Linked DNA regions of Homo sapiens. The protein of the gene in region 3 interacts with the protein of the main gene of each other region in a pairwise test. Each region holds a gene or a part of one and is shown on either strand. Other genes may lie near its edges. The genes, in order: ING4, SEMA4C, PEX1 and ZNF180.

What was found.
Region 1: the proteins of PEX1 (region 3) and ING4 interact in binary tests that used the Homo sapiens proteins (3 or more experiments, as listed by UniProt).
Region 2: the proteins of PEX1 (region 3) and SEMA4C interact in binary tests that used the Homo sapiens proteins (3 or more experiments, as listed by UniProt).
Region 4: the proteins of PEX1 (region 3) and ZNF180 interact in binary tests that used the Homo sapiens proteins (3 or more experiments, as listed by UniProt).

What each region holds. Positions count from the first base shown.
Region 1 is NC_000012.12:6,659,957-6,667,364, forward strand, and holds the start of ING4 (inhibitor of growth protein 4), read right to left. Parts: upstream 3,164-7,408; 5' UTR 3,146-3,163; coding exon 3,109-3,145; exon of another isoform or gene 3,092-3,108; intron 1-3,091.
Region 2 is NC_000002.12:96,866,707-96,874,491, forward strand, and holds the start of SEMA4C (semaphorin-4C precursor), read right to left. Parts: upstream 3,375-7,785; 5' UTR 3,330-3,374; coding exon of another isoform or gene 2,322-3,329; intron 2,044-2,321; coding exon of another isoform or gene 1,879-2,043; exon of another isoform or gene 1,713-1,878; coding exon of another isoform or gene 1,668-1,712; exon of another isoform or gene 1,307-1,667; coding exon of another isoform or gene 1,181-1,306; coding exon 1,072-1,180; intron 1-1,071. Other genes in the region: collagen alpha-1(I) chain-like, read left to right, coding at 1,668-1,712, 1,879-2,043, 2,322-3,329.
Region 3 is NC_000007.14:92,490,371-92,497,883, forward strand, and holds part of PEX1 (peroxisomal ATPase PEX1), read right to left. Parts: intron 6,408-7,513; coding exon 6,343-6,407; intron 5,400-6,342; exon of another isoform or gene 4,260-5,399; coding exon 4,117-4,259; exon of another isoform or gene 4,027-4,116; coding exon 3,923-4,026; exon of another isoform or gene 2,760-3,922; coding exon 2,583-2,759; exon of another isoform or gene 1,133-2,582; coding exon 902-1,132; exon of another isoform or gene 873-901; intron 1-872. UniProt on the Homo sapiens protein: Component of the PEX1-PEX6 AAA ATPase complex, a protein dislocase complex that mediates the ATP-dependent extraction of the PEX5 receptor from peroxisomal membranes, an essential step for PEX5 recycling.
Region 4 is NC_000019.10:44,497,167-44,505,258, forward strand, and holds the start of ZNF180 (zinc finger protein 180), read right to left. Parts: upstream 3,357-8,092; 5' UTR 3,109-3,356; exon of another isoform or gene 3,075-3,108; coding exon of another isoform or gene 3,032-3,074; intron 212-3,031; coding exon of another isoform or gene 169-211; coding exon 118-168; intron 1-117. UniProt on the Homo sapiens protein: May be involved in transcriptional regulation.

The DNA.
Region 1 (7,408 bases), on a different chromosome or scaffold from region 3:
AAAAATTAAAAAAAATAATGTGTAATTAGTTATTTGGTATCTGTCTCCCCAGGCCGAACATGGCTATCATATTCTCTCCTGTTTCCATAGTGTTTAGAATTATGACTTGCAAAGAGCAGGTACTCAGTAAATACTTGAATAAATGCATGAATATTTGTCACCCCAGTACAAGAGAAATCTCTTGCCAAGACTCCACCTAAAACTTTAAAAATGCCTCTACTTGCTGGGCACAGTGGCTCACGCCTGTAATCCCAGCATTCTGGGAGGCCAAGGCAGGTAGATCGCTTGATCTCAGGAGTCTGAGACCAGCCTGGGCAATATGGCCAGATCCTGTCTCTATAAAAATTAAATATATATATAAAAAATAAAAGGCCTGGTACGGTGGCTCATGCCTGTAATCCCAGCACTCTGGGAGGCCAAGGTGGGTGGATCACCTGAGGTTGGGAGTTTGAGACCAGCCTGGCCAACACAGTGAAACCTCATCTCTACTAAAAATACAAAAATTAGCTGGGTATGGTGGCGGGCACTGTAATCCTAGCTACTCAAGAGGCTGAGGCAGGAGAATCACTTGAACCCGGGAGGCAGAGGTTGCAGTGGGCCAAGATCGCACCATTGCGCTCCAGCCTGGGTGACAGAGTGAGACTCTGTCTCAAAAACAAACAAACAAACAGAAAAACTAAAATAAAATAAATAAAAAAAAATAAAATGCCTCTACTGTTTAAACCTACAACTTCAGGTCTGCTACCACCAGTTCACAAGACTGAGTCACTGGTGATTTACCAAATCTAATGGTGTTATTAAGCCTATCCTAAAAAATATCTCTGCAGCAGTTGGCATGATCTTTTCTCCGCTGAGTAACTTTCTTTTCTTTTCTTTTGAGGTGTAGTGTCGCTCTTGTCGCCCAGGCTGGAGTGCAATGGCGCAATCTCAGGTTCAAGGAATTCTTGTGCCTCAGCCTCCCAAGTAGCTGGGATTACAGGCGTCTGCCACCACGCCCAGCTAATTTTTGTATTTTTAGTAGAGACGGGGTTTCACTATGTTAGCCAGGCTGGTCTTGGAACTCCTGACCTAAGGCGATCCACCCATCTCAGCCTCCCAATGTGCTAGGATTATAGGCGTGAGCCACCGCTCCCAGCCTTTTTGTTTTTGTTTTTTTTTTGAGGCGGAGTCTCACTCTGTTGCCCAGGCTGGAGTGCAGTGGCATGATCTCGGCCCACTGCAACCTCCACCTCCCAGGTTCAAGCGATTCTCCTGCCTTAGCCTCCTAAGTAGCTGGGACTACAGGGGCACACCACCACACCTGGCTATTTTTTTTATTTTTAGTAGAGACGGGGTTTCACCATGTTAGCCAGGCTGGTCTCGATCTCCTGACCTCATGATCCGCCTGCCTCAGCCTCCCAAAGTGTTGGGATTACAGGCATGAGCCACCGTGCCTGGCCACCAGCCTTTGTTTTTTTTTTTTTTTTTTTTTTTGAGAGGGACACGGAGTCTTTCTCTGTCACCCAGGCTGGAGTGCAGTGGTATGTATGATCTTAGCTCACTGCAATCTTCACCTGCTGGGTTCAAGTGATTCTCCTGACTCAGCCTCCCAAGTAGCTGGGATTACAGTCACATGCCACCATGCCCAGCTAATTTTTTTTTTTTTTTAAAGTAGAGACTGGGCTTCACCATGTTGGACAGGGTGATCTCAAACTCCTGACCTCAAGTGATCTGCCCGCCTTGGCCTCCCAAAGTGCTGAGATTACAGGCATGAGCTACTGTGCCCAGCCTGTCTACCTCACTTTCTAAGCAGGAAGAAGCCACCTTAGATTCTTCCTTCTCTCTCAACCACTCAGTCATTCAGTCAGTCCTTTCATATTTAACTCCTAAATACTTCTGTAACTCCCTAAAATCAGGTTCTTATCTCTGTCCTGGAATGTTATCACTAATTGATCTCTGTTATCAACAATATCATGCTCCAATTTACCATATATTAGTCATTTTCCTCTATAAAAATCATACTCTACTTTAAAATGCAAACTTCTTCGTTTGGCTTAAAAGACCTTGTCCAATCTAGCCTCAGCCTCTTTCTCCAGTCTCCTTTCTCAATTTCTTACCTTAGATTCATAAATATCAAATACGCTGACCTCTGAGTCATAAATATCAAACACCCTTGACCTTGCCACAAACCCATCACAGTACCTTTGCGGATGCTTTCCCCAACCTGGAATTCCTTTTTTCTCTCCTCACTGGCAAATAACCTTCAAGACCCTATTCAAACATCACCTCCGCTGTAAAGCTTTTCCTACATCCCCAGGTAATTACCCCCCTTTTCTCCAGGGTTGCCTACCAAGTGTCCTTTTTAATGTATTTCCATTATCTCACTTGTCACAGTGTTTTATAATTATTTGCAGAATCTGTTTCCTACTAGATCGTGAGCTTCTTGAGGGCAGGAGCCTTGTCTTACTCATTTTTCTATCCCTAGTGCCTGCCATTATGTCTGACCCATAGCAGGACCTCAATAAATATTTGTTGAATAAATGACTCCGGGCCCTAAAACAAATGTAAGCGCACAGAGCAATAGGCTTTCTGCAGGGGTGGTTTACATAAATCGCATAAACACCAGATTTTCATTTGATGGGAATTAGATCTTTACTCCATGAAGAGAAGCGTTCTAGTTCATCATCTGACAGTGGTCACTCATCACCACCACTCTCAACCCCATGAGAAGCCACTTTTGAGGAAGAATGGAGTGGAGGAGAGGTCTTTACCGCTTCTCCAAATGGCAGTGTGTGATAACGATTCTGAACGACTATGGGGAAAAAAATCTACCGAGGCTGGAGACCCTGGAGAATGGGGGCAGCAACTATCTTCCTGGCCATGCACACTAGCCCTTCAAGACACGTCTCTAACCCCCACACCGCACCCCTCCCTCGTCTACACCCATCAGCGGGGCCTCGATCCTGCTGCCCCGCCCCCTCTTTCTCCGCACCCTCCAATATTTCCTGCCACAGAACCGCTTCATAATTGTGACCTTCTCGTCACTGGAACTTAAGGGCTACAGATCCTCTCATCCCTGATCCCCGCACCACTCTGCAGCCCCGACCCCCACCTCCAGCCTGCTCTTACTGTCCAGATAATGTTCCAAATACATCCCCGCAGCCATCTCGAAGCAAAACAAAGCAACTTCCGATCCGCCCCGGAAGTGACTGTAACGCGACAGGGGCCGAAGCCATTTTGCGGCTAAAGCCTTTCCGCCCTTAAAAGGAGAACTTCCGCCCTTAAAAGGAGAACTTCCGCCCTTAAAGGAGAACTTCCGCCCTTACTATATTACCGCCGGTACACATCCGCCCGACACTGAAACTTTTCCTTTTGCATGGTAGCCACGACCGCCCACAGTGAGGCGGCTGTAGCCCGCTTCCGCCCTTACAGACACCCCAGGACGCGACCGAGACAGGTATGACGTCACTGGAGGTCGCCATTTTGCATTCTCTAGCAAACTTTTTTCCCTCCAAAACGGGAATGTATGGTAATCCGTGCAGGGGTAACTGTTCACTTTAGGCTCATATTGCGTAAACATACCTTCTCAGCAACTGGAAGATCCAACTTTTTTTCCCTCTTTTGCAGAATGACTTTTTTCAAGCCAGTTAGTTTCTTAAGGAAGTTGGGGAAGAGTATCAGGCCTTGAGACATTTAAACCGTCTGAATTTCTATTCACTCACACAAACACCATCTCCCCCAGCATTATTTTTTTAACTTGAGAAAGATGATCACCTTTCTACTTATAAATACAAAGAATGACTCATAATAAAGCTATAATTCTGCACATCTTTTGTCAGAGCTCCTGTACGTTACACTAGAATACACTTTCACATATAAAATATTACTTCCTGCCTTGCCCTCTTGCTTTTTTTTTTTTTTTTTTGAGACAGAATTTTCACTCTTATTGCCCAGGCTGGAGTGCAATGGCGTGATCATGGCTCACCGCAACCTCCACCTCCCGGGTTCAAGTGATTCTTCTGTCTCAGCCTCCCGTGTAGCTGGGATTACAGGTATGCACCATCACGCCAGACTAATTTTGTATTTTTAGTAGAGATGGGGTTTCTCCATGTCGGTGAGGCTGGTCTCGAACTTCCGACCTCAGGTGATCTGCCCACCTCAGCCTCTCAAAGTGCTGGGATTACAGGTGCGAACCACTGTGCCTGGCCCCTCTTGCTACTCTCTAAGGGGGAAATCTCGTGTTTTTGTTTTCCTTTTGTTTATATGTGATGTTAGCATCATAATTCTGAAGGGATTGAGGGATGCAGCAGTATCACTACTGGGCTAGTTGGCTAGTTAGTTGCTAGCCATCACTCTAGTCAGCTATGGTAGAGTGATTTCTATGGTTTTCATCAGAATGGGAAGCAGTCAAGGGTATGAGAGGCTGCCAACACACTAGGCTGTCAACACACTGCCAACACAAAGGCCATAACCTAATAGTGGTGTTAGTAAGATAGTATTTTAGAGATAGCTGCCACCCCTCACACTTTTCGTACCCTCACACATCCTTCATAAGAATTACCAATGTCTTACGGCAAGTTTTTAAAGAGACAGACTTTCAGCTATATAATTTCTACCAAATATGTGGAGAAGAGGAACTTCCAACCCGGGGCGGATTGGAAGTTGCTTTGTTTTGCTTCGAGATGGATGCAGGGATGTATTTGAAACATTATCTGGACAGTAAGAGCAGGCTGGAGGAGGGGGTTCAGGGGCTGTAGAGTGGTGGGGGTATCAGAGCTGAAAGGATCTGTAGCCTGTAAACCCCAGGTTTACTAGTGTGCAGGTAGTAAGATACAGCAATAGAATCCGGGAAACTGCTCTAATTACAAAAGTCATGCTTTTCGGTAACTTGATCTCTGTGCCTGTTTTACTATACAATGAGACTACTACCTCCCTCATAGGGTTGTTGGAATAAGTGAGTGTGAGTGTATCCATAAAAAGAGTAGATTCTAGTTCTAATACTGGTGATGAAGTTAGGGCCATTAGGGCCTTTTCAAGAGTTGGTGAGAGTGGGAGGAAAAAGCAGTAAATATGCAGGGAGCTAAGAAACATTGGCATATTTGGTCATATGTGATACATTCATTGGTATTACACAACATATTGAGACACCATCTTAGGTGCCCACACAGGATATCTAGCACTAAATTAAGTGGGCTTTATTTATCCCAGCCCAACTACATAACAAGTACTATTGGCCAGCAGTCCCAGAGTTCTCAGGATGTGGGAGCTTGGTCACAACTTTCACAACTTTTTCGGTGCTTAAAGCAAGGTTTTTTTTTTTTTGTTTTTTTTTTTTTTTCCAGACAGAATCTCGCTCTGTGGCCCAGGCTGGAGTGCAGTGGTGCAATCCCGGCTCACTGCAACCTCCGCCTCCCAGGTTCAAGTCATTCTTCTGCCTCAGCCTGCAGCTGGGACTACAGGCGCGTGCCACCACACCTGGCTAATTTTTGTATTTTTATTTTACTTTTTTGAGAGAGAGTCTCACTCTGTCGCCCAGGCTGGAGTGCCATGGCACGATCTTGGCTCACTGCAACCTCTGCCTCCTAGGTTCAAAAGATTCTCCTGCCTCAGCCTCCTGAGTAGCTGGGATTGCAGGCGCCCACCACTATGCCTAGCTTATTTTTTGTATTTTCAGTAGAGACGGGGTTTCACCATACTGGCCAGGCTGGTCTCGAGCTCCTAACCTCATGATTCACCTGTCTCGGCCTCCCAAAGTGCTGGGATTACAGGCGTGAGCCACCGTGCACGGCCATCAATTTTTGTATTTTTAGTAGAGATGGGGTTTCACCATGTTGGCCAGGCTGGTCTTGAACTCCTGACGTCAAGTAGTCTGCCTGCCTCGCCCTCCCAAAATGCTGGGATTACAGGCGTGAGCCACCGCACCCAGCCTTAAAGCAAGTTACTTAATTCTCAAAAAAGGTATCTTCAGAGTTATCTAGTCCAATCCCTTCACTAACAGTTGAAGAAGCACCCTGGCCAACACTGGTTGATGGTAGGCAAAGGGCTGAAGTCCAGGTTTCATGACCACATTCTACTCCATAGTACTACAGCTCTCCTGCATAAATCAATCTTGCACCCCTTAACCGGTTATGATTTCCACAAGGTAACAAATACACATATGTATACACATTGCCAACTGCAAGCCCCTCTTCCACAGACTCAGGCAGGAGTGTAGGTCCTTTCAAGAGGCTTCCATTTTTCTTCCATAGGGAGCTTAGCTGTTTTGTTAACACATAACCAAAGCCTTGCTCTCACATATTTAGGCAATGCAATCCCCATGACAGAATGTGTATGTAGAAGTCCTCATAAACCAGGATTTCACTGGAGACATCATGAAACTGTACCCTTCCATGACTGGAGAATTGCACAAATGGGGCATCATCACACAAGCACTTGTTCATCACACACACACTCTGGTATAAATCCTCAGTACTGTTCTTGGACATCTCCCCAAATACCTTTTCCGCATGCTCGCTCACATCAGTAGCTCCACTGCCTCTGATCCTTTTACATGAATTTATTTCTATACAATGTTCTAAAAACACCCCTTGGTTTGTACATAAGTTTTTTTCTTTTTTTCTTCATTTTTAAATTACTTTATAACAACTGGTTTCCTGATTTTTTTTTTAATTTCCTTTCCTCTGAAATCTGCCATGATTTAAAAAAAAAAAAAAAAGACAAAAAGAAAAATGCTGTGGCTAGAGGACAGGGGTGGAGAGAGGGAAAAAAAGGACAAAAATAAACAAAACATCAAATATGAAAATTCTCAGAGATAATGCATTTATAAACACAGAAATGGTTACAACAAAGATGGCCGTGATGAGTGAGTATAATATATTTATATATATATATTTATATATAAATCCGTGTCCGGCATCTGACTGTGGCACCTAGGGAGCTAAGTCCAGTCCTTGCGTTTGCCTTGAACTCTCCCTTCTCCGCAACACCCCTGTTTTGGAGTTTCACAGATAACACAAAGCCTCCCACAGCTCCTTGGGGGTGGGTTGGGGAGACTGAGAGTATAGGGTCTTTGTAGGCAGAGAAGGAGAGAGGCTTCAAGGAAATCCGTAAAACCATAACACACACTTCTAAGCCACCTGTGACCAACTTGGGAATTTCTGGCCCCTTGGGGACCACATCTCAGCCCTTGCCCCCTTCAAATAAAAGGAGGTCTAGCCCCTACCCCAAATCTCCTTCTACCAGCAGTCAATAGGAAGCAAAGTGAGACGATGTAGGGGAAGAAATGGCTCTCAGGGACTGAGGCATTTGAGAAACCTCTGTTCTTTTGCAGGCAAGAATAGAACAAGAGGCTGGTTGCATTTGGGGCTCCCTTTTCTCTGTTATCTGGGAGGGCCAGCCTCTAGTCTTACATCAGCCCAAACTTTGAGGA
Region 2 (7,785 bases), on a different chromosome or scaffold from region 3:
ATGGCTCTTGCTCTCAGGGTCAATGGCACCTCCGGCCGCAGGGCTGGGCACCCCCACCCCACCTTCGCTTCCTCGGCGGCTGCTTCCTTCTTTGCCCTGCTGCCCACTGCCTCTATCAGAGTCCAGCAGAGCAGGAGGCACAGACGGCTATGAGTACTCCCTGCCTCAGGAAACCCTTCACTCCAGCAGGACCCCAATCCAGGCTGCCAGAGATGCGAGCACAGCAGGCCACTAGGACAGGTGGGGATGGCAGGAGGGGAGCTGGGCTGTGAGCCAGGCCAGGGAGGTCCGGAGAAACCAGAGGCTCAGAGAGCGGAGATGGGGCTGGGGCCTGGGAAGTCTTGCTGCCACCCGGCATGCAGGGCACTACGACATTTATACAGTCACGTGATTCCTACATCAGCTGCCAAATATGGCTGCCGACCTGTCCTCAGGGTCCCCCCAAACCAGCCTTAGTCTTTGCAGGCAACAATGGATCCAGACACAGACCGGCATGGCAGGGCTTCACTGGCACCCGAGTGGAGCCTGTGGGAGGTGAGCTCATCCCAGGTCCCCAGAGCGCACGGCTGATACAAACACCTGACATCACCTTTCACACGGGTGTGTGCACAGGGAGCACTGCTGGGTCCCCGCTGTGCCCCGGCAACCATGCGAGCATGTGCACATACACACACACTTCCAGGGCCACCAGAGTGTATGATGTGTACAGGGCAGTAGGAGGTCTTAGGGGGGCCTGGGGAGCCAGGGGAGAGAGCCTCCAGTTTATATTTATCCCGGTTCCAGTTTCTCTTTAGGCTCCCAGCGCCAGTGACAATTCAAGAAGCGAGGCGTGGAGAGGGCGAGGCAGAAGGCTCTCCCCCTCCCACACCTGGGCAGGCAGTCTGGGGTGGGGAGTTGGACAGAGCTCCCCCAGAGGAGGCTAATCCCAGGTCCCAACCCACACTGCCCGTTCTTCCAACTCGAGTTTCTTAGAAAGCTGTGCCACACACGTGAGAATAAAGCCAGCACACTATGGGGGCAACTCCTCAGCAGCCTGTCCCTGACTTCCTCCTCACCCCTCCAGGCACTCACCCCCAGAAGACACTGTCTTACGCGGCACAAGGTTCCACCACACCTCAGCCCCAATGCCCAGGCCCCACAGCCTTGCTGCCAGCAGCCAGACAGCCCAGTGTGGGGCCATGGCGCACGCCCCGGCTCTGAGCTTCAGGCCAGCTGTCCTGCTGAGGGAAAAGACATGGTCAGAAATCACAGCCAGAGAAAGCAAACCAGAGGGGCCCGCAGCAGGAGAGGCCACAGGACTCCTCATCAGGCCTTCCAGGAGCCCCGGTGCCCTCCTTCCCCTTCTCTTTGGAGGTGGACCTAAGTCCCCACACTTGGCCTCTGCCTAAAAGACCACAGGTCTCCCTGGGAAGCGGGGAGGAGTTGAGTTGGCTGAAGGCTAAACAGGCTCCGGGAAGCCCTCCCTGGCCTCCAGACCCACCACTACCTCTGCGCAACAGGAAATCATTTGAGAAATAAAAAGGGGACCCCCGCCCAACATACACACTCAGGCCTAAGAGGTTTGAGTTTCTTGAAAGAACCTCAGGCAGCAGGCCTTGCAGCCACTGGGGCTCCGGACCCTGCCAACACCTAATTCTGGGAGGAAGACTCCTTAGGGCGACGAGGGCATGCGGTGGGGTAGGCGGTCGGGAAAGCCCCAAAGGGGAAACCTGGTGCGGCCGGCTGCGAGCGGAGGTCCCGGTCCCGGCCTGTCCCCTTCCCCAGCGCAGACAATAGCCCTGCAGAACCCCAAACCCCGTTCCACATCAGCAGGGCAGGAGTGTGAGAAGGGCCGGGAGCGAAGGGGCCCAGCTTCCCGAGGCCCCTTTGTTGCCCAAGAGGGAGGCAGGAAGTGGGTGGGATGGGCGTGGAAATGACCAGGGCCTCATCCTGTTCCTCGCACTGCCTCCTCCGAAACACCAGCCCTCTGGCGGAGGGGCGGTGGGGGGACCGAGCTCGGGTCGAGTCGGGGACTCCGGCGGCGCGCGCAGGCGACGGGGGGAGGTAGGGGCGGGGACGCGAGGGGGTTCCTCCCGGGCCGCTGGCAACGCGCCGCGCACGGCCGGCACCCGCTGCGCTCCCGCGACTCTGACGAACCTTCCCAACTCGGGGACTGCGCCCCAGGGACCCTGGCCTGGGCGGGCCAGCGGGATTGGCTTCCCCTGCTCCAGCCTTCCCGTGCCAGGGGCGGAGACGCAGAAGCTGGGGACCTGCTCACCCCCAAACAAAGGGTCCCCGCCAAGACCCCGTCCCGGGTCCCCCCGGGTTCTCCCCTCCCCCAGCTCCAGGGATTTGAACGCAAACAAAGCGGCGGCGCGGGGAGCGTGGCGAGCCCGGCCTGCGGACGCCCCCTGTCGGCCCAGAGCCCCGGCGCGGGAGAGCGGGGGCTGCGCCCCAGACCAGCCCCCCAAAACGCCCGCGGCCTCATCTCGGCTCCTTACCCGAGGATCGGGCCGCACCCCGTGGCGTGCTCCGAGGATCCGCCCGGCAGCGGTGCTCCCACCCGCAGCTCCCCCCAGGGCGAGGAAACGGGCAGCCGGGAGGAGGGGTTGGGGGGAGGGGTGCGGGATCCAGGCGGGGCACCCCACACCCTCGCCCACCCCGAGCGGCCAGCCGTGGACCGCGGCCCTCCCTGCAGGGCGAGCGCTCCAGCCGGGGACGGCGCGGCCCGGCTCGGCCCGGGGGCCTGGCTTTCCGGGACAACCCGCCTCCCCAGCGGAATGGGCGGGCGGGCGGGGGGCCGCGGCAGGGAAATCCGATCCCACAACATCGGCCTCCCTCCAAGCCCGCCCCAAACTTTCCATCGGGGGTGGGAGCGCCGAGGGCAGTCCAGGAGCCTGGCGAGGATCCCGGCCGCGGACCGGACCGCGCGAGGAACCCTCGCTGGCGCGCCCCTCCGGCCCCGGGGCTGCGGGGCTGCAGGTGCTGTGCGCCCCACTCCCGAGACCCTGCGAAGCAGCCGCGGGGGTCGCAGGAAGGATCCCCGCGTACAGCCGTCTCCGCCGCCGCGGCTCCCCGCGCCCCAGCCCCTGTCCCTCCCGCGTCCGGCAGCCCCTGCCCAAGCAAAGGGACAAAGCGGCGGCTCCGGGGCCCCGCGGCTCCAGCCTCACGCAAGCCCGGCCTCGCTCACCTATTGCGCGCAGCTCCAGTCCCCGGGCGCCGCCCTCGCGTTCGGCTCTGACCGCCGTCCACCCCTGCCCCCGCGTCGCCGCCTGCCCGCGCTCGCCCGCCAGCCCTCCGCGGCCTCTCTGCCACCGCCCCTCCGTCCCCGCCCGGCTCCGCGCCCCTAGGCTCGGGCTCCCCGCGCCACCACGGCGGGCGCCGGCTCTTTCTCCAGCGCGGCCGCGGCTCTCCGCCCCCTTCCCCTTGACGTCAGGCTGGGGGGGTCGAGCGGAGGCCGGGGGCGGGCCGCGAAGGCTCGCTCAGGAGGGGGCTGCGACCCGCAGCGACCTGTGGACCCGCCCGCTCTCCGCCCGGGGGCTCGGACCTCCGCCTCTCTGGGTGCCCGGACCTCAACCCCTCCGGGTGTCCAGCAGCCCCGGGGCTCGGAGTCGCGGGCTGCGCCACAGCGCCTGGAGGGAGGTGGGGCGGGGGAGGGACTCCGGGTATGGCCACGGGGGAATCACACTCACCCGATCTTTCTGAAGTGTCCCCCGAAGACTCCGGGCGGGCTGGGCTGGGGAGAGGGACTCCCGACCGTGCAGTTGCAGGAACGACCGCGGGCGAGCCACGTCGAGGCGAGTATCCAGGGGAGGCACGCTGGGGGAACCGAGGCGTCTTTTGGGGCGGACCAGAGGGGTCTGCCGTTTGGCCCCCAATTCTGCCTCTTTCTAGGCCCCGAGGACCACTGGTCCCTGCCCTCAAGTCTGGAAAGGGCTTCACCAGCCAGGAAGACCCTTCAATCAACAGAAAGGGCCTGCTCCTGCTTCTCACGCTTTGGGCAAAGCGCCTATCCCCAGAAAATGACTCCTCGTGCCACTGGAAGGCTGATTAACAAGTGGCATGAGCCCTACTGTTCAGATGAAAGGGGCTGTGGGGAGCCACGCTGCAGAACCACCGCCACCTTCAGAACCACCAGCCTCCGCCCACAGCCACTCCTAGAAGCAACTTGTAGCTCTGGCCTCATGGGCGGTGCAGCGTCTTTCCTGCCAGCTGGTCCTCTGAGCTGGGCAGGTGGTTAGAAGAGGTGGTCCTCATGGAGGACACCCCACGGGCACCTGGAGACAGATGCTACCTCCTGGCTAGGGGCAAAAGGCAGAGGTGAAGGGGCTTGACGTCCTGAGGTTTGGAGGTAACTTTAAGCCAGGGTGCAGTCCTGGAGGGGAGGAACACTTCAGGCTGCGTCAGCAGATCTGGATTATAAATCAGTCCGACAGCAGCTTTTGTTCTGGGTTAAAACTTGGCATCTGAAAAGTGGAGACCAGAAAAGTGGTGGAGATAATTGAGAAAAGCAGCCCAGTTTGGTTTCAGTAACAATCGGGTCTTTGCTGGTACACATAATGGCCCCTTCTCCCTTGCTGGCCAAAGCCACGTTTCCCAGCTCTTTTCCACTAGGAAAAAGAAAAAAAGCTGTGGCCTTGGAGATGCTGGAGATAATGACCATGGGGTGGGCAGGGAAGGCCTCCTGCTTCAGCTGACAAGGTGGGAGAAGGTGTGTCACCCTCGTGTTTAGTTTATTCCCCGTATCTATTCAAGCGGAGGGTAAACTGAGATGCAAGTGCCCTCACTTGTGTTCTGTGCTTTAGATTTTTGCAGCTTGTCTTGATGTACATTTTCTTACTTCACCCTTATGACCACCCTTTAAAAAGTAAGTAATTTGGGAGGCTGAGATGGGAGGATCACTTGACCCCAGGAGTTCAAGACCAGCCAGGGCAACATACTGAGACCCTGTCTCTACAAAAGAAATTATTATTATTATTTTTTTTTTGAGACAGAGTCTCACTCTGTCACCCAGGCGGGAGTGCAATAGCGCGATCTCGGCTCACTGCAACCTCCACCTCCTGGGTTCAAGTGATTCTCCTGCTTCAGCCTCCCAAGTAGCTGGAATTACAGGTGCCTGCCACCAGACCTGGCTAATTTTTGTATTTTTAGTAGAGACGGGGTTTCACCATGTTGACCAGGCATGCGCCACCATGCCCAGCTAATTTTTGTATTTTTAGTAGAGATGGGACTTCGCCGTTTTGGTCAGGCTGGGCTCGAACTCCTGACCTCAGGTGGTCCACCTGCTTAGGCCTCCCAAAGTGCTGGGATTAGCCACTACGCCCAGCCCCAAATTAAAAAAAAAAAAAAACTAGCGGGGCGTGGCGGGGAGGGGTGGCTCACGCCTGTAATCCCAGCACTTTGGGAGGCTGAGGCAGGCGGATCACGAGATCAGGAGATCCAGATCATCCTGGCTAACATGGTGAAACCCTGTCTTTACTAAAAATACAGAAAAATTAGCCAGGCGTGGTGGCGGGCGCCTGTAGTCCCAGCTACTCGGGAGGCTGAGACAGGAGAATGGCGTGAACCCAGGAGGCAGAGCTTGTAGTGAGCCAAGATCACTCCACTGCACTCAAGCCTGGGCAACAGAAGGAGACTCTGTCTCAAAAACAAACAAACAAACAAACAAACAAACCAAACTAGCGGGGGCGTGGTGGCATGCATCTGTAAGTCCCAGCTACTCAGGAGGCTGGAGTGGGAGGGTCGCTTGAGCCCAGGAGGTTGAGGCTGCAGTGAGCTGTGATTGTGCCATTGCACTCCAGCCTGTAGAGCGAGACCCTGCCTCGACAAAATTAAAAAAATAAGTATTGTTGCTCCCCTTTTGGAGATGAGTCAAAAAGATTAAACAACTAGCCCCAAGTCATGGAGATAATTAAAAAAGATTAAACAACTAGCCCCAAGTCATGGAGATAATTAAAAAAGATTAAACAACTAGCCCCAAGTCATGGAGATAAAAAGGTCAGAATTTCTTTTTTAGAAACGGGGTCTTACTCTGTTGCCCAGTCTGGAGTGCAATGGCACAGTCATGGCTCAATGTAACCTCAGACTCCTGGGCTCAAGCGGTCCTCCCACGTGAGCCTCCCAAGACTACAGGTGCACACCATCATACACGGGACAGGGTCTCGCTATATTGCTCAGACTGGAAAGTTCAGATTTTTAAATCAGGTCTTGGGACTCCCGATTCTGTTTTTCCACAGAGTCACCATCTATCCTGACAATGCTCCATTTCATGCTGTTTTTCCTCACCTTCAATACTGCTCCCCCATCCCCCCACCTCTAGGTGTGAAGGTTACCAGGAGAGACCTGAGCTCGCTGGCTCTGACTCCAAGGTGGCCTCAGTGGAAAGTTTCAAAAGGCAACCGGTTTGGTTTCACTGGCAGGGCAGCGGCAGGCGTTTGGGTTCTGGAGGCCCAGGAATGTAGAAGCCTCCAGCTAACAGACTCCACGCGCCTATCCTCCCAAACGCTCTCGGAGATAAGCTCCCAGCTCCCTCCCCTTTTCCACCTTCATGCACTTCCTGCTGTATTCTGTCCATTCCAGCACTGGCCCTTTCTGTGGGTGGGTGGGCAGAGGATACAATTTCCTGCATGACTACTTGCTCATGATTCATACTTCTAAATGAAAGTACAACTGATATAAAAAAAAGATTTCTGGGTCTTCAATTAATAAAAAAATTACTAATACAGGTACCGGGGGTGGGGGGAGGTGCACGTACCTGACTAGTCTCCCTAGGGCCTAGCATATCTATGGAAGGTATCCACACTTTGGGACTCAGGCCTTGACAACTGCTTGTGGTCGTGTCAAGGAAAGACACAGAAATTGTGCTAAATGACTCTCAAGGGTCTTCAAAGATCACCCAGCAGCTCAGGCCAGCCCCTAGAGATGACCTAAAGAGTCTTTCCTGAAAAGCAAGTCCCCCTTCCCATCTCTTGATGTTGGTTGGGGGCCACACTGCCCTTCATTTGAGCTACTCACCTACTAGCTCTCCTGAGGCAGCCAGAGGGAGGCCCTGGGTGGACACTGGGTTCTCTGGTGAACGCTGCCTGGTGGATTTCCAAGGCAGCCAGGACTGCCGTCATCCCACAGATGGGGAAGTGAGAAAGCTTGGGTCAGCGCGCCTGGGGACCGAGGTGACTAGGGACATAGGAAAAGGACTCTCCCTCCCTACTTCCTCCAAAGGAGAGTTATCAAAGCTGCCCACCTGGGATGTCTTTCCCTTCCCAGCCCCTCCCTGTCACCAGTACCAAAAGGAAGCAGGAAAACATCCGTCATCACAGCCCCGGATGCGGATTTTCCAGTGGCTCCTATCAGGATATCCCCCAGCCTTTTCCCAAGGGCTTAGGGATCTGGAAAAGTCAAAGATCTGGAGGGCAAGTGGTCACATTGCCAGCACCACTGTGAAAATCTGGACCTTGGGGAGGCTGAGTCTCTAACCGATCCCAGACTAGTTTTAGAAGATCTGGTCAGCTCCCAGCCAGTCCCAGAGAGGGCCCATTACACACCCCAGGGGACAGCATACGCCCTTGGGCGACCTCACAGTGCACACCTCTGCTCGGGTTACAGCCAGGTCTCTGGAGGGACTGAGTCGTCACCGACACCTCCTCTCCCCTTGGTATCTATTTCTCTCTTGGGGATGGGTATGTTTGGGGAGCAGTAGAGGAGGGGACAGTGGACAAGAGCCAGGACTGGGGAGGAAGGCTCCAGTTATCGACGCTGATGGACAGCTCGGCTCCTTCTCAGAGCCAGGTAGGGCCACCTTCGAGAACT
Region 3 (7,513 bases):
ACACCTGTAATCCTAGCACTTTGGGAGGTCAAGGCACGCAGATAGCTTGAGCCCAGGAGTTTGAGACCAGCCTGGGCAATATGGTGAAACCTCGTCTCTACAAAACATACAAAAATTAGCTGGGCATGGTGGCATGTGCCTGTAGTCCCAGCTACTCAGGAGGCTGAGGTGGAAGAATCACCTAAGCCCAGGAGGTCAAGGCTGCAGTGAGCCATAATTGTGCCACTGCACTCTAGTCTGGATGATAGAGTGAGACTGTCTCAAAAAAAAAAAAAAAAAAAAGCCTAAATTAATAAAGCAAATGTACAAAAAACCAGGAAACATATAGATAACCAAACACATGTACAGATGTTACATGTACCAATAAAATTACAGTGAACCACTATTAATTTTTAGAAGAGATGTTGAATGCTAGTAGAACAGTGATACTGCCCACATTTAATCAAAACACTTTCCTGTTGAAACATTATCAGTACACTTCATTGTGCTTACTATGCAGCAAAAGTATCACAGATAACACTTTGTTTTCAGGAATTTCTTACATTATTGTATCAAATTATTCATTATCCTCAACTGTTCATGATAACAGAATTTAAGTTTACTATAAAATGGAACTGCTCCTAAAGATGTTTTAAAGCCACTAGGTAAGAGAAACCTCAAAGAAACCAAAGGTAATCACAACCACGCGCTACTTTGGTTCCTTGCTCCCAGCCCTGTCTTGAAAATCTTAACAAGGAATGCAAATTACCAATTAGTGTAAGCAAGAAACAAGACTATTTTACTGAAGAACCAACCAACCAGGAAGAATATGTGGGGCTGGTTAGGAGAGAAATCACTGCAACTTTACACCAACATATAGCTTTATATTTCAGAACTGTATAATGATGACTGCACAAGATACCAAATCAGAAGAGGTTCCATTTCCAAGTTCTGATTCATAAGAGCTTCCAAAGTAGAGCCGGTACATATTGAATTTTGATTCATCTGGAAGGATCTCGGACATCTCTAAAGAAACAAGGGACTGATCTAAGCCACATTCTCCATCTCCAGCTGAATCGTCAGAGCCACTGCTATGGTTAAGAAAGACCATTGAAGACAGACTTAGGTCACTATCAGAGCTGGAACTTCCATCCTAAAATACACAAAAGGACAACCAGTTTAAAGATGTAAACAATTTTAGTCTCAGAAATAAATAATAACATAGATAGCATTCTATTAGAGCAATACAAGAAACTTAGAAGCATTTTTCAAAGAGCTCATTAATTCTCTAACGGTTTTGAGGCACATGGTAAAAATTTAACTATTAAAATTATAAAGACAAGATAGAATGTGTAGATAATTTACCAACCATCCCCCAAGAAAGTCTGTAATGAAGCTAAGACTCAGACCTCTGGGCTTTATTTTTATGTCTCTGACTTTCCATTCATACTTTTCTACTCCAAAATGATGAATCAACCATGTTATAGAGTGCTTTCTCATTATAGAGAGCTCTACAAATACACACCTTTCTGGTAGTAAAGGGAGAGGGAAGAACTTCAATGGCTTGCCAAAATAGCAAAAACCTAGGGAGTTTCTGATTTAGAAACTGTAGGTTCTGTAGACATTCCAAACAAATGTGGTAAAGAAGAGTAATAGAATAATCCTTCCTAGAAAATATATGGTAAAGTCTATAATGTAACAGTTCAAATATCTACTGTAAATATTAAAATCATAATACTGTCTTTAGAGAAAAGGCTGATGCTAGGGCTGGGATACAGAAAGTACAAGATAAACCAAGAATATTTTTCTTTTTTGGGGGCAGGGTCTCATTCTGTCATCCATGCTGGAGTGCAGTGGCACAAGCATGGCTCACTGCATCCTGGATTTACTCAAGCGATCCTCCTGCCACAGCCTCTCCCAAGAAGCTAGGACTACAGGTATGTGCCACCATGCCCAGCTAATTTTTAAATTTTTCACAGAGACAAGATCCCACTCTGTTGTCCATAGTGGGTACAGTTTGTGCAACCATGATTTGGTCTCAAACTAGGCCCAAATGATCCTCCTGCCTTGGCCTGCCAAAGTGCTGGGATTACAGGCGTGAACCACTGCACCTGGCCAAGAATAACTTACTGTATCTGGAAGTGAGGAAGTGATTCAAGAATGATGAGGACATGTCATAAAGATACAGGAGCCATACAAAAGGGGCTCCTATTGGCCAGATTGGAACAATGTGAGCTTCAAAACAACAACTTTAACTGATTATTTTTTAAAAGTTAAAGTACAAACAAACAAAAAACTCTAATTATTTTTGTTTGTAGTATTTAATTCATGGTATCCCAATTTAAATAATATCCTTGCAAACACCAACATGTTTTTGCCAATATTAAGGTAATGTTAAAGAAACAGACATCAAACTTCATAATTATAAATTCTCTGCAAAACCCATATTCCAACTATGGAACATTCAACTAAAGGTAAATTTATGTTTCTATACAGTTTTACCAAAGTTGTTTAAAAAATAGCATTTTTTAAGGTGGAAATTTTGACATTGTACTTCTTTTATCACTCATAAAATGTCATAACAACTTCCTCATATAACTTGCCTGGAGTCCACTCGAGAGCAGCATTCCATGTAAGGCCTCCAATTGGGCATTGTAAAGTAAAGCTTTCAGATCAGCTCCAGTAAAGGAGTCAGTTACTGATGCTACATGCTGAAGGTCAACATCATCTGCCAGAGGTAGAGAGTCACTGAGGACATTTAAAATTTCAAGACGTGACACCTGAAAGGAGAAAAATTTATTTAACAAATAAAAAATAAAATTAAAAATATTATCTTAAATTGTGTATCTTATGATTTTCTTCATAAATTAACCTTATATATCTAAAAAGCTTTATAAGTAAGTTGAGAAATGTACCAACAGCCTACTATTTATCTTCCTTGGAATTTTTTCCCCAACAGAAATAATATATATAGGAAAATGAATGAAAATCAAACACTCTTAAGGCTGGGCATGGTGGCTCACGCCTGTAATCCCAACACTTTGGGAGGTTGAGGTGGGAGGATCACTTGAGCCCTGGAGTTCAAGAAAGCCTGGGCAACACAGGGAGACCCCATCTCTATACAAAAATTAATAATAAAATTATCTGGGCATGGTAGCGTGTGCCTGTGGTCCCAGCTACTCGGGAGGCTGAGGTGGGGAGATTGCTTGAGCCTGGGCCATAGAGGCTGCAGTGAGTTGTGATCGTACCAGTGTACTCCAGCCTGGGTGACAAAGTGAGACCTTGTCTGAAAAACAAAAACCCAAAAACCTACAAAATATTCAGTGTAAATAATTTCTTATTCACACAGTGCTTATTTTCTAGATTTAGGCAAGTGTGCCAAGAAGGTATTTCAAAAGGAAAATCTAAATAATTTAAATAATAGCTACATGTAACATATATACAGATACTTTATACCTTTGACTATTCATTTGTCTATCTGTTCTTTCATTCATTTATTTGTTTGCTTCTAAATTGGAGAATAAGAGTTGGAACAACACAGGACAAGGAAGAGTTGAAAAATTATCTCTATGAAACCTGCTTACATGCTTACGATTCACATGCTTGATTCTGTATCAGAGTTTTTTTTTTGACAGGATAATGGAAGTATGTAATCTTTGAACAGAAGATAATGTGAAAATATAATACATTAGGTTTCTTGCATTTTTTTTTCCCCAATCAGCCAACACAGAAGGATTACAAAGTTTTCAGACTTGCACTGGGCCAAAAAAAGGCTTTGCATCTAATTCAGAATCTTTTTATGCTTTGAGCAAACAGTGGCTAAAGCTTTTCCCTAAGAAAGCTGGTCTTCTAAGGACAATTGCCATTACCTGGCAGAAGTAAAGCTCACAAGGAAAGAGTGTAGCATTTGTTGGGTTTTGGACTCTAAATATGAAATTGTCACCTGATCAGGAGGAGGACAGTATACACATTTATCTAGTCGACCAGGCCTAAGCAGGGCAGGGTCAATCAAGTCAGGGCGACTAGTAGCAGCCAATACATAAACACCTAGAGGAAAAAAGAACATTTTTTTACCAAAATCTGATGACATGATGACATTTTGTTATAACATTCTATTTCTGTATTTATAATTATTACCCTGTAAGCCTTCTACTCCATCCAACTGAGTCAGCAACTGGTTAACTACTCGGTCTGTAACTCCTGTATTATCATGACCCCGCCGAGGAGCAATGGATTCAAATTCATCAAAGAAAAGAATGCAGGGCTTTGCAGCCTGTGCTCTGGGAAAAACAAACAACATTTCATATTTGAATCAGGCTTCATAGTTGGCAAAGTGATTTCATATACATATATGAATGTATTTATTTTATGTATTTATATATATTTATATACTTCTTTTAATTTTTACAACAAACCCTTAAAGAAGGCAAGTTGTATGTAATTACATATAAATACATATAAATGTATTTATATATATTTATGTATTTATTTTAATCTTTACAACAAACCCTTAAAGAAGGCAAGGCATATGAAATTACCCTTGTATTCAGTAAACTGTTGAGGTCAAGGTGTTTATTAAGACCCATGCCTTCTGGATAGACTAACAGGGATCAAAACAAAAACTGACTCTTAGTCAATAAGTCAAACACTTTTGATTCCTATTACAAGTAACCATTTTTATATTAATATATACTTATTGGCCACCCTTCCTTCTTTTGTGAAATGCCTATTCATTTATTTTGCCCATTCAAAATTTGGAAAGCTCATTATGTTGGTACTGTTTTGTAAGGGCTCTCTATAAAATATATTTTATTTCTTTTACTTTTTTAATAATTTGAACTTTGACTTTGTTTTATTAATTTATTAACAAATTTTAATTCAAAATAAGTGAATATTAATTCCATATCTGGCAACAGGTGGACTAGATGTCTGGCGAATAACACCTAATATAAAACACCTGTCACGGTGATTGAAAAAAATCAACAGCTATCTCATTAAATGCATGGCAAGTAAAATATATCTTCTGGGGCCAAAAATAGACCAGAATTATCTGCTACTTGAATGTTTGGCAAAACTCTCCTAGAAAACTGAGTCTGATGTTTGATTTGTGTAAAGACTTCTTTAACTTTTCTAACTCAATTTTTACTAAGTTACAGGACTACTCAGATTTTGTTTCTTTTTTGCTCAATTTTGGTCAATTTTGTTTTTGTCTATGTCACCTAAGTTTTCAAATGTATTGGCATGAATATTTTCATAATATTCCCTTATTATCTTTTACATTTCTGGGATATCTTTAGCGATGTTTCCCTTTTTATCCCTAAAATTGTTTATTCATGCTTTCTTTTTTCTTAATCAAACTTGTTAGAGATTTGTCAATTGTACTCGGTGTTCAAAAAATAAATCTTGGCTTTGTGAGCTTCTCTGTTTTGTGTTTCATTAAACTTCATTCTTATCTTTATTATTTCCCTTTTAACATATTTTTTAGTTTATATCTATAATTTTCCTAATTTCATGAGATAGATACATAAGTGGTTAACTTCTAACCTTTTTTCTTTTCTAAACATTTAACACTATAAATTTTCCTTGAAATCAGTTTTGCAACATCTAACAATTTTAATGGATAGTATTTTCATTATCGTTTGCTCCCAAATATTTTCCACTATAACTTCTCTTTAACCCAGGAATTACGTGGAAGAGGTTTATTTTGTTTATGCTTTTTCCTGGTAAACTCGGTGGTGAATACATGAAGTATTCATTTTATTATTCTTCCTTAAGCTGCATATGTATTTTATGTATATTCTCTTAACTGTATACTTTATAATAAAATTTTTGGAAGAATAAAACAGTAACTTTTATTTTAAAACTCCCCATAATGCTATCACATTTGAATAATTATTTTCATCCTTAAATACCATCTTCTGTATTCATATACAGTTTTTTAATATATGCAAAATAGTTACACTCACTGAAATTAAATTGGCCAGATGGACTCTTGACTTATAAGAGATAAATTAGAAACTGGGGGAAAAAAGAATTTAGAACTTACAAAATTTAGAGATAAATTAGGGGCAATTATTTGCTTCATATAAGAATCTACTCTGAGATTTCTTTGAATAACCACTTCGATTCCACTTTGAGGAGTATTTCTATTGTAAAACAAAACCAAATAATTTCCAAAATTTAATATCTAAAATGTTTTGTATTATTTGATGAAATAGAGAATCCACGTCCTCTAGCTTATTAATAATTCACATAAACCACAGGTTTCAAATATCAGTTCTTCAAAAAACAAGACCAAAAAAAGCACTGATTGATAAATAATAACAGAGTCAGTTACTTTAAAAACATTCATAGGCTACCAACCTAATAAAAATATCCCGAACAGCTTGTTCACTTGCTCCAATGTATTTGCTGAGTAACTCTGGCCCCTATTGGGTAAAATAAGAGTTGAGATAAAATTATTTAAAAAGAAAATATAAATTTGGTTTCTGACTAAGTCTAAATGAATCATGGAAATCTTTAATATGATTAAATGGATGTCTTTTATACATTTTTAAAATTAATGTGTGCTAGAATAAATATCATACCACAAGTTCTATGCTTGATGCTTCTGCCCAGAACATTTTCCCCCGGATATTCTCATGGCTTGTTGCTTCATTTTATTTAGATCTCTGCCCAAATACCACCTCTTCAGAAACCCTTTCCTGACAAGTCCATCTATGACTCACTCCAGTTACTCCAAGCCTCCTTACCCTGCTTTTCTTCCTACATAGGACTTACCACCACCATCTGACAGTGAATTATATACTGAATGTGTCTATCTGCTTGTTGTCGCTTTCCACTAGTAGAATGTAAACTCCAAAAAGGCAGTTTTGTTCACTGCTGAATCCCTTGTGCCAGAAACAGTGTCTGCCACATAAGTATTGGATAATAGTTTTTCCAAGTGAATAAGTGAATGGTGTAAGAAGGGACAAAGTCCCATCTATCTCAAATTTTAAAAAATGTGTAGAGATATGACTTTAATCAGCATCTTCAATTACTGAAACAATGTATTTTCATAGGAGTTAAAGAATATATCATTTTTAGAACATGTGGGAAAAGGCCAAAAAAAAAAAAAGAGAATATATAATCTTCCCTAAAAGCCAACTGAAAAACCTTTCGAAATAAATTTCCCTGCATATAGCAAAATCAATAATGAGAATAGTCTTTCCTTAAATTGGGATCTTAAAAAAAACCTGAATAGGTCCTAAAGTCATCTCTAGTGAAAAATCACTATCTCCAGAAGACCAACTACTGATCAGGATATGTGACCAAAATAAGGAATTTCTAATATTCAACCACATAAATATCTATTAACATAATAATATTTAATTACATTTCCTCAATACAGTCAGAGAACTATAGGACTAGAGGAGGGAACAAGAAATAACTAAGGCAAGACCGGGCACGGTGGTTCTCGCCTGTAATCCCAGCACTTTGGGAGGCCGAAGCTGGTGGATCATGAGGTCAGGAGGTCGAGGCCAGCCTGGCCAAC
Region 4 (8,092 bases), on a different chromosome or scaffold from region 3:
GGCCATGAGGGCCTCAAACCCCCTAAAAGGCTGCAAAGAGAGTCAGGGAGGAGCCACAGCCTCCCAAGCTGAGAGGGTCAGGCTGCAGACAGACCCAAGCTCTGGGTCTCCACTCACCTGTGCACAGACCTTCGGGGGCTCTGGGGGCTTCTCATCCTGCTCTTCCATGCTCTCCTCCAGGCACAGCAGGGTGCTGAGGTCCTGAGCTGCACTGAGAGAAGCCCCAAGTACAGCATGAAGATGTAGGTCTGCCGGAACCGCTGGGCCCCCCACCCCCATTAGCCCCTGCTCCCAGGATGCAGGATGCATTCCCATAGCAAATGCACTTCTGGAGGTTCCTGCCAGCTTCCTGCCCAAATACCTGTGTATGTACTGAGAGTCCCTCAGTCCCTCTCCCAGGTCAAGTTTCTGCAGCTCCAACCTGGTTCCTCCACCATCTTGGGCCCCTGGACCATCTACCTGTAAGCCCAGCTTGTGCCCAACATGGCCTTCTGCCCACCACCAAAGTCTGCAGCACCAGTCCATCCCTCTCCTATTCACTGGGCCCTGGGATCCCCACAAATATCAGGCATATTGAGGACCCCCTGGTGTTCACCCCATCCTACCCCTACCAACCTCAATCTACAGCCCCAAACCAGCACTTCTTCCTAGGGCCAGAATCACACTCACTGCCTAACTGCATGAAGCTGGTGACACAGCTCCACTGCTCCCAGGAACTGATTCAACAACTAAGACTGATCCTACCGTTCCATCAGCCAGACCTGTCCCTCCAGCAACTCAGCACAGAGGGCCACCCACATCCTGCTCAAATAGCCAAGCATTTATGCACAGAGCTCAGCTATACCCACATCCTGTTCCCTCCACACTTCTGGGGTCCACTGGCTCCTACTCGAACAGCACCAGCCAGATTCCCACCCTAACACCCTCCCAGGCCCTGAATTTGTAGCTCTAAACCAGTCCCTCCACCAACTTGGGTATACTCAGGCCTGAAACTACAACAAGGCCTGCATAGGGCTGGGGGCCTCCAACAGACACCAGCACAAGCCAGACAAAAGCAGCCCTACCCAGGCTCTAAATACATGTCTCAGAAGCTCAGGTGCCTCTGTACCAACTAGGTGTTTTGGGATCCAAGACTAGAGGGCAAATCCTACCCTAGGCACCCCACCCTCTGCACTCCATCTCTCCCACTTACTCTCTCCCCTGCTCCCACCATATTCTCACGCAGCATAGCGTAGGTTCACAATGCAGCTGTTTCCTGAAATTGCACCCAAACTGTTTCCTCCACCTTACTCCACAGCCCCCTGCTTGAGCCACACCTGCCCAGATTCTGACCAAACATCTTTCGGGGGCACCTGTGGCTCAGGAAGATCCTGTCTTTCCACCAAACTGGGCACCATCAGGCTGTGATCAGGGTTCCAATCACACAAAGACCCCAGCACCCTCTGTCTAAAACTCATCTCCGGCCTCCTGTTTCCCAACCAAACACCGGTGTGTGTGCACAAGGGGTGCCTGACACAGTCCCGCCCCTCTGCAGCTGCTCCCCCCCACACACCTGGGCATCCTCAGGCAGAATCAGGGTCCTAGGACTGCCCATGCCTCCCCAATCTGCCCAAATGCCAGCACACGTGCAGAGTGTTGCTGGAGCAGCCCCGTGCCTCCTAAGACCAGATCCAAACTGGAGCCCCCAGGCCTCTATTCCACAGCCACTGCACACGGGCCACCCACCTAGACTCCCTCCTACTGATACAGCCACAGAGCAGGTTCGTGCTCACAATCTGCATCCAGGACCTGGCTCCTCTGCCCGTCTGGGGGCACACCATGCTCCTGAGTCAACAATCTACATCCCTCACCCTGTGTCTCAACCTGCCTGGGACATCTCAGGTACCCACAGCCTCTGTGTAGGTTCTGGGGTCAACTGCCCCACTATTTGCCCGCAGCCAGGACACTACAACAACTAAACAGTAGCTTGAGCATACAGCTCCATAATCAGCCCCAGGACTTGGGCACTCGCCAGCGTGGGGGTTCTCGAGCCTACGATACAGCAGCTCAATGGGAACTGGGCCCTTTGTCCTTCTCTTGCCCAATCATGACGGCCTGGGTGTTGTGCAGTCAGCTCTTCCCGGGACCAAATCTGCAGCACAGGCTCTGTCCCTCTACTAACCTGCACATTCTCACGCCTGCAAATAGCGTACCCAAGTAAAGGTCTCAGCAACACCTGCTTCATAACGATGCTGGCAACATACTGCTTCCTCCCCAGCTACCAATTTGATGGCAGCTGTTGCAGCTCTGTCCTTCCTGGACTTAAATTCTGTATCTCCAACCCGGAGTCTCTGCCCATCTTGAATGCTCTAGAGCTCTGCACTATCCTACATAGGTCCCTACTATCAGTTCAAGTTTCTGTTTTCCATTCAGACACCCCCAGGACGTGCAGGGGGCCCTCTGCCCAGAACCTGTTTCTAGGCCCTGATACCCTCCTTCAGCCTGGGAGTTTGCTGCCCATGGGTAATTCCCACCAAGGGTTCACTAGCAACACTGCCTCTTCTGGCACAAGAATCTGCAACTCCAATCTGGTCTCTCCACCAACCACAGCGCCCCCAGACCTTGGAGAAGCGCGTTGTCTGCTCTAGGGGCCCAGAGCCACCTGCTCGGAATCTTACCTACAACCTTTTGCTTCCTACCCAAATACCTGATCAAGAGTAAAGGGACAGTGGCACAGCCCCTCCTCTCCAGAAACCACAATCTGCAATGGAGCACTCCATCAACCCGGACATCCTCAGGCCTCCACTAAATAAGCCCGGCATTGGAGGAGGGGAGTTCTCAAGATGTCCCCTTACATCAATGCATGTGCCCTGTGTTCCAGCAACCTGGGCATCCTCAGGCCCCAGACAAGAGCACCACCTGACCAAGCACCCGCGCATGCACGCAGAGGACAGTCGCGGAATATACAGCTGTATCAGTAACTCCATCAACCCCGGTGACCCGAGGCTAAAGCGCCACCCGCACAGATACCAGGTCTCCCCGCTACACTCACCACCGCTTCCAGCTTCCCGCGTAGACCCTGCGCATGCGCGCATCGGACACCAAGCGCTGCCCCACGCCCCTACCAACCTGGGCGTCCGCTGGCCCGCAGCCCAGGCTGGGCCTGTCACCGCCTCAGTGCCTAGCACGGCTCTGCGGCAGGACGAACTCGGGTTAGGCAACCCCCTGCCCCGATTCTGCAACACGGCCGACTCGGGTTAAGCTAGTTCGGTCCCCTCTCCTAGTCAGCATCCGCAAGGCCGCTGGGGGTTAAGTCTGAAGGGCCGAGCTGCTCGGCGACAGCAAGCGTCCGCGCGCGGGACAATGGCTGCTCTTGTGGCCGAACCCGGAAGTGCACTTGGGCTCGGAGAGCCAGAACTACAATTCCCAGAAGCCTCCGCGGCGCGGACGGTCAGTAGGCGGGGTTCCGGCTTCTCCAAGGAAGTGGGGCGGGGGACCGGGCCAGAAGCTAAGAGGGCGTCCTCGTCCGGGGCCCGGGGGGGCGCCACACCTGTGCATGTGCAGGTCTAGGGGGAGCACTAAGACCAGCCGCGGCGCCGGGAGGCCGAGGCCAGTGCAGCGACGCATGGGGAGTCGCTCTGGCGTGACGTCAGAATCCAATAGAAATGGCGGGGACCCTTTCTGGGTGCCCCCTGCCTGTCAGACGCTGCGCGCGACCCCTTGTCTCCTCTAGTCCTAGGGGAAACCTGTGAGACAGTTGCGACATCCCCATTTTACAGTGGAGGGAGCGTCTACCGAACCCTTCAGGAATCTATGTTTTTACATTTAATAATACTAAAATATAATCATTTTATTTTTAAATTTTGAGTTCTTTCTCTGCCTATAAGGCCTGAAGGATCTGTTCCCCCCACCTCTCCCCTTTTCTCTGTTTTTGTTTTGTTTTGTTTTGTTGTTTTGAGACGGAATTTCGCTCTTGTCGCCCAGGCTGGAGGGCAATAGCGCGATCTCGGCTCACTGCAACCTCCACCTCCCGGATTCAAGCGATTCTCCTGCCTCAGCCTCCTGAATAGCTGGGATTACAGGCGCCAGCCACCACGCCCGGCTAATTTTTGTATTTTTAGTAGAGACGGGGTTTCACCACGTTGGCCAGGTTAGTCTCCAACTCCTGACCTCAGGTGATCCGCCCTCGGCCTCCCAAAGTGCTGGGATTACAGGCGTAGTCCCCTTTTCTCTTTGCCCTCATTTCTTGCCCATTTGCTTGGCACATTTTCCCCATTCTCCAACAGATCCAGCAGACTCCAGCCCCTGGTCGTTTGCAGGTGCTCTTTGCACTCCCTAGCAGCCTCTCCTGAGGGATTCATTTGGCTCTCACCGTCTGGTAATTAGGGGAATATCATCTTCTCATGAGGCATTGCCCCACCACCCGTTGTGAACTTGCAAGCAAACGCTTCCCTCCCCACATGCTCTGTGCCTCCCCCTTCATCTTTTATTTTTTTCTCTAAAGAACTTTTCACTATCTAGCACACTATATATTTTAATTATTTATTTGGTCTACTGTCCGACCTACCACTACGATGTCAATTCCATAAGGAAAAGCATTTTATCGATGTTGATCACTGCTGCATCCCCAACACCTAAAAAAAAAAAAAAGAGAGAGACCTGGCACATAATAGATGCTCAATAAATATTCGTTGGCTAAATAAAGGTTCCTGTCTCTGTATTAAACACTTTAATATTTCATTACCAAGCCCAATCAGCCTATGAGGTAGTTGTGTTAATTTTCATCCTACCAGGGAGGTAGCTGAAAATTGGAGCCCTGCTGTATGAAAATACATAATTTTTTAGTTTTTAAAATGCTTGTCAAAGCACTCCTGTAGTTTTCTTCACGTAAATTCTGACCTTTAAAAACAATGAATTATTACTATTTGAAATGTAATCTCTATCCCCAAAGCTTCTTATTATTGGTTATTGTGGTTGATCTTTTAAAAAATACTTATTTTGTATCTGGTTAACCTACTGCAATGTTATTAATTCTTACAATACTCCAGTTGACTCTCTTGGCTTTTCTATTGAGACAGTTATCTACAATTTCATCTTTTCCTTACCAGTATTTTAAATTAGACATTCTCTTTCATGTTGGATTATATTGGCTACCATTTCCAAAAAAGTATTACTAAAAGAGGCATTCTTGTTTGTGTTCTTTTAATGGACATATCTCTGAAGTTTGAGGGTTAAATGTGACATCGGTTTCTACATTGAAGTAAGTAGCTTATTTTTTTAACCTTTTATTTTGTAAATTTCAAAACAAAAGTAGGGACTCAATTAATGACTCCCCAAGACCTATGTCATCCAACTTAAATATTTTCACTCAGTCTTGTTTCATCTGTATTTCCACCTATGTTGTGCATTTGAGACCAAGATGTTGAACTCTAGAGTCCATGCTCTTAACTTTTACATTATGTTGCCGCTTGTCTACACATCAGTATCTTTCCTCTACGTGCAAGCAATACTAAGTTTGCAAACAAAACAGAAAAAGTTCGTATGTATTCACAAAAAAGCAAAAAAAAAAAGCCTTATAAGTAAATTTAGTAAGATAAATATGTCATCTGAAGAAACCCTCAAAACCTTACTGAGAGAGAAAAATGGACAAATAGAAATGCTGTGTTGCTAGCTGTGTGTTGTAAAGATGTAAAATCTTGCAGATTGATCTGCAAATACAAATATGACAAAATCAGAATGGGATGCTTTGAGTGTTAGGTCGTCTTCCTTTTTTCACTTCATTTATTTTTCTGCTAATTGTTTAAGATATTCAGAAAATAGGCCAGGCGCAGTGGCTCACACCTGTAATCCTAGTACTTTGGGAGGCTAAGGCAGGCCAATCATGAGGTCAAGAGTTCAAGACCAGTCTGGCCAACATGGCAAAACTCTGTGTCTACTTAAAAAATACAAAAATTAGACAGGCATGGTGATGCACGCCTGTAATCCCAGCTACTCAGGAGTCTGAGGCAGAAGAATCGCTTGAACCTGGGAGGCAGAGGCTGCAATGAGCCAAGATCACGTTGCTACACTCCATCCTGGGCAACAGAGCAAGACTCCATCTCAAAAAAAAAAAACAATTTTCAGAAAATAAAGCGTTAGTACTATGTAATGTAAAACTGACTTTGTTTATCTGTCTTTTGTTTAGTCTTTTTTATTTTCTTTCACAATGAACAAGGTGGTAATGTTTACTTCCAGGAACCTATAAATCCTGACTTAACCTGAATATTACAGGGACTTTAGAAGAGTTACCACTGCTGGGCGCAGTGGCTCACGCCTGTAATCCCCACACTTTGGGAAGCCGGAGCAGGAGGATCACTTGAGCCCAGGAGTTTGAGACCAGCCTGGGCAACATGGTGAAACCCCGTCTCTACAAAAAATACAAAAATTAGCTGGGCCTGGTGGCACAAGCTGTAGTCCCAGCTACTCAGGAGGCTGAGGCAGGAAGGATTGCCTGAGCCCAGGAAGCAGAGGTTGCAGTGAACCAAGATTATGCTACTACACTCCAGCCTCAGCGACAGAGCCAGACCCTGTCTCAAAATAAATAAATGAATAAATAAAAATTTTAAAGAGTTACCACTCAGGAACATTCTAGAAAGATGCCTATCTAATCTAGAGATTTATCTGTCAACTGTCGGGAAGAGCTGAGACCAAAGTTTATATTAAGATTCTGTTTATTGGCCATGAATTGGATAAGGGCTCAAGATACAGTGAAGAGCAAGAAGATTATGAATCCATTTACTATAAATACTAGAAAACAAAGTAAGAGTAACGAGAGGGTAAAAGGGCATGATCTGTCTCTAGGATGTCAGGGGGAGGGGGACATTTCTTGGCAGGGAAGAGGAAAGTTCTCAGGGTTCAAATAGGGTGGTGTTTCTGGTACTACTGAGTGCAACCCTTAAGATCCTAATTCCGGTCTCTTGTATCACATCTAATGATTAATTTTTAAAATCTGAATTAATGTTATCATCATTATGATAGCCATTCAGCTCCAAGGATAGCAACAACGCATTCTGAAAACTCTTCATTTCCAGGAGTTTTCAGTGTTGGTTTCCCCCTGTGTTAACAGTCCTTTTTTGTCTCCTTTGCTTGATCTCTCCTGTAAACATCAGAGGAACCCAGGAATCAGCTGTCAGCCTGTCCCTTGCCTTGTCTTCATCCACTCTGCTTGGGGTTGACATAACAGGCCTATTGCTCAAACTCTGTAAGTTCCCCAGAAGGTCCTGTTTTCCTGACTAGCCTTTGGGCAGCTCTGGGAACTGAGCTCTCATAATGTTCTATCTGGTAAGAGTGCTTTTGTTTGCCTGAGGCCTTGAGCCATGCTGTACCACTTTGTCCAGATGGTTTATACTAACAGTGTAATTTATGGAGGAACATCTGCTTTCCTTCTAGGAGTCTGGAGCTTCAGTGACTGACCCTTTATAAAAACCATGGACACCCAGGTTTAGGTGAGCTTCCCTCGATGGCAATGCTTCACACACGTTGTCACACATCATTGCTGGGGGATTTCCCATGTGCTGTGGTTTGGATATTTGTCTCCTCCAAAACTCATGTTGAAACTTAATCCCCAGTGTGGCAATATTGAGAGGTGGGGGTTTTTAAGAGGTGATTGGCTCATGAGGGTTTTGCCTTCATGAATGGATTAATCCATTCATGGACTAATGGATTAACGGGTTATCATGGGAGTGGAACTGGTAGCTTCATAAGAAAAGAAAGAGAAACATGAGCTAACATGTTACCACACTCAGTCCCCTTGGCATGTGATTCCCTGCACCACTTCAGGACTCCACAGAGAGTCCCCACCAGCAAGAAGTGCTCTCACCAGATGCAACCCCTAGACCTTAGACTTCTAAGCCTCCATAACTGTAAGAAATAAATTTCCTTTTTAAAACAAATTACCCAGATTTAGATATTCTGTTATAGGCCAAAGAAAGCAGACTAATACACCATGTGACTCCACTGAAAGAGAACACTTGGAAGCTGGTGCAGGGTATCCTCCAGACTTCACCCCATGCACCTTTTCCCTTTGCTAATTTTATTCTCCATCCTTTTGCTGTAATAAACTATAACCATGAGT